Linked DNA regions of Homo sapiens: region 1 is linked to region 2. Evidence: fine-mapped expression QTL. A gene starts in region 2. The other region holds a variant in brackets. All regions are shown on one strand. Distances are between the middles of the regions.

Evidence for each region. PIP is the estimated chance that this variant, and not a neighbour inherited with it, causes the effect.
Region 1: its variant is fine-mapped to the expression of LINC01841 in whole blood (TOPMed, PIP above 0.99).

Annotation. Positions count from the first base shown.
Region 1 is chr19:14,388,699-14,392,698 of GRCh38, forward strand. ADGRE5 (adhesion G protein-coupled receptor E5) reads left to right here. Exons shown (of 20, transcript NM_078481.4): 3 at 4-120; 4 at 2,226-2,381. Among named protein-coding and RNA genes, the nearest start is that of ADGRE5, 9.3 kb to the left of the region's middle. The variant A/G (reference allele first, on the strand shown) is at 2,034.
Region 2 is chr19:14,361,864-14,366,374 of GRCh38, forward strand. LINC01841 (long intergenic non-protein coding RNA 1841) reads right to left here and starts at 2,127. Exons shown (of 4, transcript NR_134908.1): 1 at 2,009-2,127.

The sequences.
Region 1 (4,000 bases), 27 kb after region 2:
CAGGCTGTGCCCGGTGGTGCCCTCAGAACTCCTCGTGTGTCAATGCCACCGCCTGTCGCTGCAATCCAGGGTTCAGCTCTTTTTCTGAGATCATCACCACCCCGACGGAGACTTGTGACGGTACAGAGGCTTGAGGGCAGCGCAGGGGACATCCGCGATTATGAGGCATTGCCCAGCCAGTGGGGGACAGAGGTTGTTGTGAGGGGCCACAGCCTTACCTTCCAGACTATCATCATGGCCAGAGAAAAGAAAAAGAGGGCAGGCGTGGTGGCTCACGCCTGTAATCCCAGCACTTTGGGAGGCTGAGGCGGGCAGATCGTTTGAGGCCAGGAGTACTCAGAAGACTGAGGGGAGAGGATTATTTGAGCCCAAGAGTTTGAGGCTGCAGTGAGCTATGATTGCACCACTGCACTCTAGCCTGGGCAACAGAATGAGATCGTGTCTCAGGGAGAGGGAGAGGAAGGGGAAGAGGGAGAGGGGGAGAGGAAGGGGAAGAGGGAGAGGGGTAGGGGGAGGGAGAAGGGGAGGGGAAGGGGGAAAGGGAGGGGGATGGGGAGGGAGAGGGGGAGGGGAAGGGGGAAGGGGAGGGGAAGGGGAGGGGAAGGGGGAAGGGGAGGGGGATGGGGGAGGGAGGGGGGAAGGGGAGGGGAAGGGGAGGGGGATGAGGAGGGAGACGGGGAAGGGGAGGGGGAGGCAGAGGGAGAGGAAAGGAGGCAGGAAGGAAGGAAGGGAGGAAGGGAGGGAGAGAGATAGGCCCGGCATGGTGGGTCATGCCTGTAATCCCAGCACTTCAGGAGGCCGAGGTGGACAGATCACTTGAGGTTGGGAATTCGAGACTAGCCTGGCCAACATGGTGAAACCTCCTCTCTATACTAAAAACACAAAAAATTAGCCGGGGGTGGTGGTGGTCACCTGTAATCCCAGCTACTCGGGAGGCTGAGGCAGGAGAATCGCTTAAACCTGGGAGGTGAATGTTGCAGTGAGCCGAGATTGCGCCACTGCACTCTGGCCTGGGCGACCAGAGCAAGACTTTGTCTCAAAAAAAAAAAAGAGAGAGACAGAGAAGGAGAGAAAGAGAAAGAAAAGTAGGCCCGGCATGGTGGCTTACGCCTGTAATCCCAGCAGTTTGGGAGGCCAAGGCGGGCGGATCACCTGAGGTTGGGAGTTCGAGACCAGCCTGACCAACATGGAGAAACCTCATCTCTACTAAAAATACAAAATTAACCGGGTGTGGTGGCCCATGAGCACATGCTTGTAATCCCAGCTACTCCGGGGGCTGAGGCAGGAGAATCGCTTGAACCCGGGAGGCGGAAGTTGCAGTGAGCCAAGACCGTGCCATTGCACTCCAGCCTGGGCAACAAGAGTGAAACTCTGTCTCAAAAAAAAAGAGAAGAAAAGAACAAGAGAGAGAGGGAGGGAGGGAGGGAAAGAAGAGGGAGGGAGGGAAGGAGGGAGGAAGGAAGGAAGGAAGGAAATAAGGGAAGAATATGAAGGGGGAGAAGTAAGAAGTGAATAGGCATGGCTTCCTGGAGAGAGAGAAGCTGGGTGCTCAGGAATCTGGAGTCTGTGCCTCAGTTTACCCTTAAGACTGGGGAGGGGGTACATTCTGGCTATGAGGTTTTTTTTTCCTTTTTTTTTTTTTTGAGACAGAGTCTCACTCTGTCACCCAGGCTGGAGTGCAGTGACCCGATCTCGGCTCACTGCAACCTCCACCTCCTAGGTTCAAGCGATCCTCCTGACTCAGCCTCCTAAGTAGCTGTGATTACAGGCATGCACCACCATGCCCAGATAATTTTTGTATTTTTAGTAGAGACGGGGTTTTGCCATCTTGGCCAGGCTGGTCTCGAACTCCTGACCTCAGGGGATCCACCTGCCTCAGCCTCCCAAAATGCTGGGATTACAGGCGTGAGCCACTGCACCCGGCCGCCATGGGGTTTAAATTTCTACAAAGAGACTGGGGATGGGGATGTGGAGCTTCCTGTCCATCCCTCACCTCAGCACTGTTCACTGTGTCCAAATCTAAGATGCCAGCC[A/G]GAGAACTAAGATCAAGTGTGGTCTTCAGGAATGGCTTGCTCCAGCTGCAGCATAGCCTGTGCAGTGCAACTTAAGATTTTTTCCAAAAGATACTAAGCAGCAGGCCCCATGTTGGGGAGTCAGGATGGGGGTCTCTGCCCTGACAGAACTCACATCTTTGGGAGGTGACTCCCTGTCCTGTTGTGTTCCAGACATCAACGAGTGTGCAACACCGTCGAAAGTGTCATGCGGAAAATTCTCGGACTGCTGGAACACAGAGGGGAGCTACGACTGCGTGTGCAGCCCGGGATATGAGCCTGTTTCTGGGGCAAAAACATTCAAGAATGAGAGCGAGAACACCTGTCAAGGTAAGAACCACCCCACGTCCTCTGACTTTCCATCCATGAGGTTTGGGGTCACCAGAGCCATTCTGGCAGCATCCAGAGAGCAGGGCCTTGGTTGTAGGGTCAGTGCCTGGCGTCTGAGATGGGACAGGTGCACATGTACCTACCCCACCACCCCAGAGAGGCAGAGTGATGTGAGGATTAAGGGCTGACTCTGGGACCAGCTGCCTGGGCCAAATCCTGATAACCAAGTGTATGACGTTGGCCAGGATACTTATTCAGAAACCGCTGTCCACATGTGAGATGTGATAACGTTATCATGCTTGTAATTCCAGTGCTTTGGGAGGCTGAGGCGGGAGGATCTCTTGAGGCCAGGAGTTCAAGACCAGCCCATAGCAACATAGCAAGACCCCACCCCTATAAAAGGGGAGGCGAAGGCAGGTAGATTGTTTGAGCCCAGGGGTTCGAGACCAGCATGAGCAAGCGGGTGAAACCCCATCTCTACAAAAAATACCAAAAAAAAAAAAATTAATTAGCCAGGCATAGAGGCCTGCGCCTGTAGTCCCAGCTACTCAGGAGGCTGAGGTGGGATGATTGCTTCAGGCTGGGAGGTCAAGGCTGCAGTGAGCCATGATCAAGCCCCTGCACTCCAGCCTGAGTGACAGAGCAAGATCCTGTCTCTAAAAAAGAAAAAATCAAACCAAAGCTTTCTTGGAGGCAGGATTTTAAAAAATTAAAAACATTAAATGAAAAAAGAACTGGCCGGGCGCAGTGGCTCACACCTGTAATCCCAACACTTTGGGAGGCCGAGGTGGGTGGATCACAACGTCAGGAGTTTGAGACCAGCCTGACCAACATGATGAAACCCCCGTCTCTACTAAAAATACAAAAATTAGCCAGACATGGTGGCACGCGCCTGTAATCCCAGCTACCAGCTACTCCAGAGGCTGAGGCAGGAGAATCGCTTGAACTCAGGAGGCAGAGGTTGCAGTGAGCCAAGATCGCGCCACTGCACTCCAGCCTGGGTGACAGAGTGAGACTCTGTCTGAAAAAAAAAAAAAAAAAAAGATAGGTTGGGTGCCATGGCTCATGCCTGTAATCCCAACACTTTGGGAGGCCAAGGTGGGAGGATCACTTCACTTGAGTCTGGGAGTTCAAGACCAGCCTGGGTAACATTTCAAGACCCCATCTCTACAAAAACAAAAATATAGACAAGGGGAAGAAAGAGTCCTTATCTTTTATTTGTTTTGTTTGTTTGTTTTTGAGACAGAGTCTCACTCTGTCACCCAGGCTGGAGGGCAGTAGTGTGATCTCGGCTCACTGCAACCTCCGCCTCCTGGGTTCAAGTGATTCTCATGCCTCAGCCTCCCAAGTAGCTGGGATTACAGGCGTGAGCCACCATGCCCAGGCTGAGTCCTTATCTTTTAAAGATAAAAACAAAAGTAGCTTTGACTTTTGTTAAATATAGACCTTGGACAGGTTACTTTCACCTTGTTAAAAGGTTAAAGTTACTTTCACCTTGCTAAAAGGGGAGTAATGGCATTTACCTACAAAAGTATTTAACAGGCTGGGCACAGTGGCTCACACTTGTAATGCTAGTACTCTGGGAGGCCGAGGCAGGTGGATCATCTGAGGTCAGGAGT
Region 2 (4,511 bases):
AAAAAAAAAAAAAGACCTGAAGGGGGCGAGAGAAAGCCATGTGGGGATCTGGAGGAGGAGGTGGTGCTGCAAGTGAGAGTGAGCTGCCGTGCAAAGCCCCTAAGGTAGGAGCATGCCCAAAACGGCGAGGAAGCTGGCCTGGCTGAAGGGAATGAGCAAAGGGGAGAGAAGGAGGAGGTGAGGGCAGATAAGTGCTGAGCAGATCCTGCAGGGCCCTGTGGGCCACAAGAAGGAATTTGGCTTTTGCACTGAGTGAGGTGGGAGCCCTGGAGGGTCCTTGAGCAGAGGAGGGACGTGCCCTGACAGAAAAGCATGGAGCGGGCGAGCAAGGGCAGGAGCCAGGAGACCAGGGCAGAGGAGTCTGCACTGGGCCAAGGGGGAGTTGATGGGGCCGGACCAGGTAGGGGCTGTGGAGGAGGTGAAAAGTGAGTAGATGCTGGATAGATTTTGAAAATAGAGCTCTCGGGATTTGCTGATACAATAGAGAGAGAGAGAAAGGGACAGGGGCAGAGATAGAGGCCAGGCATGGTGGCTCATGCCTGTAATCCCAGTACTTTGTGGGGCAGAGGCAGGAGGGTCACTGAAGCCTAGGAGTTCAAGACCAGCCTGGGCAACAAAGTGAGACCGGGGAAGGAGAAGGAAGGAAGGAAGGAAGGGAGGGAGGGAGGGAGGGAGGGAGGGAGGGAGGGAGGGAGGGGAGGAAGGAGAAAGAAAGGGAGGAGAGATAGAGATAGAGGAAAGAAAGAAAGAAGGAAGGAGAAGAAAGAGGGAAGGAAGGAAGGAAGGAAGGAAGAAATGGAGGGAGGGAGGGAAGGAAGGAAGGAGAAAGAAAGGGAGGAGAGACAGAGATAGATGAAAGAAAGAAGGAAGGAGAAGAAAGAAAGAGAGGGAAGGAAGGAAGGAAGGAAGGAAGGAGAGACAGAGAACGAAGAAAGAGAAGAAAGAAGGAAACAGAAAGAGAGAACAAAATAAAACAGAGACAGAGACATGGAGGACTCCAAGTATTTTGCCCCAAGAATCTGGGCCAAAAGAAAGGAAACAAGGTGGCCGGGCGCGGTGGCTCCCGCCTGTAATCCCAGCACTTTGGGAGGCCGAGGCGGGCGGATCACGAGGTCAGGAGATTGAGACCATCCTGGCTAACACGGTGAAACCCCGTCTCTACTAAAAATACAAAAAATTAGCCGGGCGTGGTGGGGGGCGCCTGTAGCCCCAGCTACTCGGGAGGCTGAGGCAGGAGAATGGCGTGAACCTGGGAGGCAGAGCTTGCAGTGAGCCGAGATCGCGCCACTGCACTCCAGCCTGGGTGACAGAGCAAGACTCCGTCTCAAAAAAAAAAGAAAAAAGAAAAAAAAGGAAGGAACAAGGCTCAGAGAGGTCCAAGGAGTTGCCCTGGCGGTCCGGGGCCACAGTGGCCTTCATCCCCAGCTGAGATGTGTCCCCAGTCTAAGGCCACTCAGAGCCAGGCACCTTCTCCGGCTGCCTCCCAATCCCCGCCCCCCGCTTCCGTCCCAGCACCCTCACCCCGCCCCCGGGCCCCTTTGTCCTCCTCTTCGTCTTATTTCCAGAATTTCTCCTCCCTAGGGAATCCAGTCCATGTGCTTTTGATTCCTTTGTCCTGAACTCATGCGGCATGAGCACCCCTGAAGCCTTATGTGGAAAAATTTGGAGGCTGGGGGTGGGGAGGGGGTCACATTCCTCCCGGGGGTACAGAGCTACGTCGGCATCTCCAGGGCCCCCCAGCAGCAAGCAGGCATCCTCCCAGGCCAGGCCAGACCGGACGCTGCCCAACACAGGCTTTCTTTGGGGCTTGGCCGGCGCCCGACTACAGCCCCGGCTCCAGCTGCCCTGCCTGTCCCCCGCCCCCACGCCTCCCGTCCCAACCTCCCACACGTTTCCTCCTAGAAGCCCAGACCCGTGGGACTTGGCCTCCCCCGCGCCTTCCCTCTCTACTCAGCTCTGCAGCTCCTGTAGGCCTCCTCCCCGGGTGATCACAGAAGGACCAGCTCACCTTAGCGGGACAGGCAGGGCATGGGCGTGGCCAGAGCCTCGGGCAGGCATCCCAGGCTCCCTGGTGTCTCTCTCATCCGCTGGCCTCTGTGCCCTCTTCTCTTCCCCACCCCCGCTCGTGGCCCCTCCTGCCTCTCCATCGCAAAGTCCCCAGAGGAGTCTCCTTAATCACTTGCTTTTGACTGAATCCTGACCACCTGGACCCTGATCTAGCTACTGAGGAGATAAAGTAACCAACACTTAAAAGCTAACCTTCAGGCATTCTGGGAGGCTGAGACTGACGGATCACTTGAGGTCAGGAGTTCAAGACCAGCCTGGCCAACAAGATGAAACCTCGTCTCTACTAAAAATACAAAAAAATTAGCTGGCGTAGTGGCGGATGCCTGTAATCCCAGCTACTGCGGAGGCTGAGGCAGGAGAATCGCTTGAACTTGGGAGGTGGAGATTGCAGTGAGCTGAGATCGTGCCACTGCACTCCAGCCTGGGCAACAAAGCAAGACTCCGTCTCAAAAAATAAAAATTAGCTGGGTGTGGGGCCGGGCTTGGTGGCTCAAGCCTGTAATCCCAGCACTTTGGGAGGCCGAGGCAGGCGGATCACCTGAGGTCAGAAGTTCAAGACCAGCCTGGCCAACATGGTGAAACCCCGTCTCTACTAAAAATACAAAAAAAAATTAGCCAGGCGTGGTGGCGCATGCCTGTAATTCCAGCTACTCGGGAGGCTGAGGCAGGAGAATCAGTTGAACCTGGGAGGCAGACGTTGCAGTGAGCCGAGATCATGCCACTGCACTCCAGCCTGGGTGACAGAGCGACACCCTGTCTTAAAAGAAAAAAAATAGCTGGCTGTGGTGGCATGTGACTGTAGTCCCAGCCACAAGGGAGGCTGAGGTGGGAGGATTGCTTGAGCCCGGGAGTTCAAGGCTGCAGTAAGCTATGACTGCACTGCTGCACTCCACCCTGGCTGAGACCTTGACTCAGCAACAATGAAAAAGTGACAGGGCCAGGACTTGACCCCTGACCATTTTGTTCTACAGCCTTTCATGGGAAAGACAGATGAGTTTTCGACCTTCCAGAGCCTTTGATCCAGAGGAGAGAGGCAGGAAATAGCAAATGGATAAGAATATGCCATTCGGTGACTAGGGCAATGGAGATTGCAAAAGATGGTGGCTGGGAAATGGGGCTTGTGTCGGGGGTCCCTGAGACCACCCTCAGGGTCAATAATTTGCTGAGATTGATAGATCCCAGAAAAGTGGTGTTACTCCCAGTTATGGTTTATTACAGTGAAAGTTACAGATGAAAATCAGCAAAGAGGCCAGGCTTGGTGGCTCATGCCTGTAACCCCAGCACTTTGGGAGGCCCAGACAGGCAGATCATTTGAGGTCATGAGTTCAAGACCAGCCTGACCAACATGGTGAAACCCCATCTCTACTAAAAATACAAAAATTAGCCAGGTGTGGCAGGGGGCTCCTGTAATCCCAGCTACTTGGGAGGCTGAGACAGGAGGATCACCTGGACCTGGGAGGCAGAGGTTGTAGCGAGCCGAGATCCTGCCATTGCACTCCAGTCTAAGCAACAAGAGCAAAACTCCATCTCGAAAAAAAAAAAAAAACTAGGAATACTAGAGGAGAGGAGGTGAGGCAGACAGGCTCCAAGACTCCTCCATGATTCCCACCTCCTGATGTCTGCACTCTGTGTGATCCCTCGAGTGTGAGCTGGACCCAATAACTTGCTTCTAACAATAGACTAGGACAATGTATGCCAGGAGCAGTGGCTCACGCCCATAATCTCAGCACTTTGGGAGGCTGAGACAGAGGGATCACTTGAGCCCAGGAGTTCAAGACCAGTCTGGGCAACATAGCAAGACCCCATCTCTATAAAAATTCAAGCATTAGCTGGGTGTGGTGGTGCACACCTGTAGTCCCAGCTACTCGGGAGGCTGAGGTGGGAGGATTGCTTGTGCTCAGGAGGTCAATGCTGCAGTGAGCTATGATTGTGCCACTGCACTCCAGCCTGGGTGACAGAGTGAGACCTTGTCTCTCTCATATATGTGTATATATATATACATATATTTTTTTTTTGAGATGGAGTCTCATTCTGTTGCCCAGGCTGGAGTGCAGTGCAGTGGTATGATCTCTACTCACTCCAACCTCCGCCTCCTGGGTTCAAGCGATTCTCGTGCGTCAGCCTTCCAAGTAGCTGGAATTACAGGTGTGCAGTATCACGACCTGCTAATTTTTTGTACTTTTAGCAGAGATGGGGTTTCACCATGTTGGCCAGGCTGGTCTCGAACTCCTGGTCTCAAGCAATCCACCTGCATCGGCTTCCCAAAGTGTTGGGATTACAGGTGTGAGCCACCGCGCCTGACCTATGTGTATATATATACATATCTATAGATAGATAGATAGATAGATAGATAGATAGATAGATAGATAGATTTAATGTTACCATTTTATTCATCATGGTTTTGCATTAATCTTGACTTTTACAAAATATCACAATAAAATAAT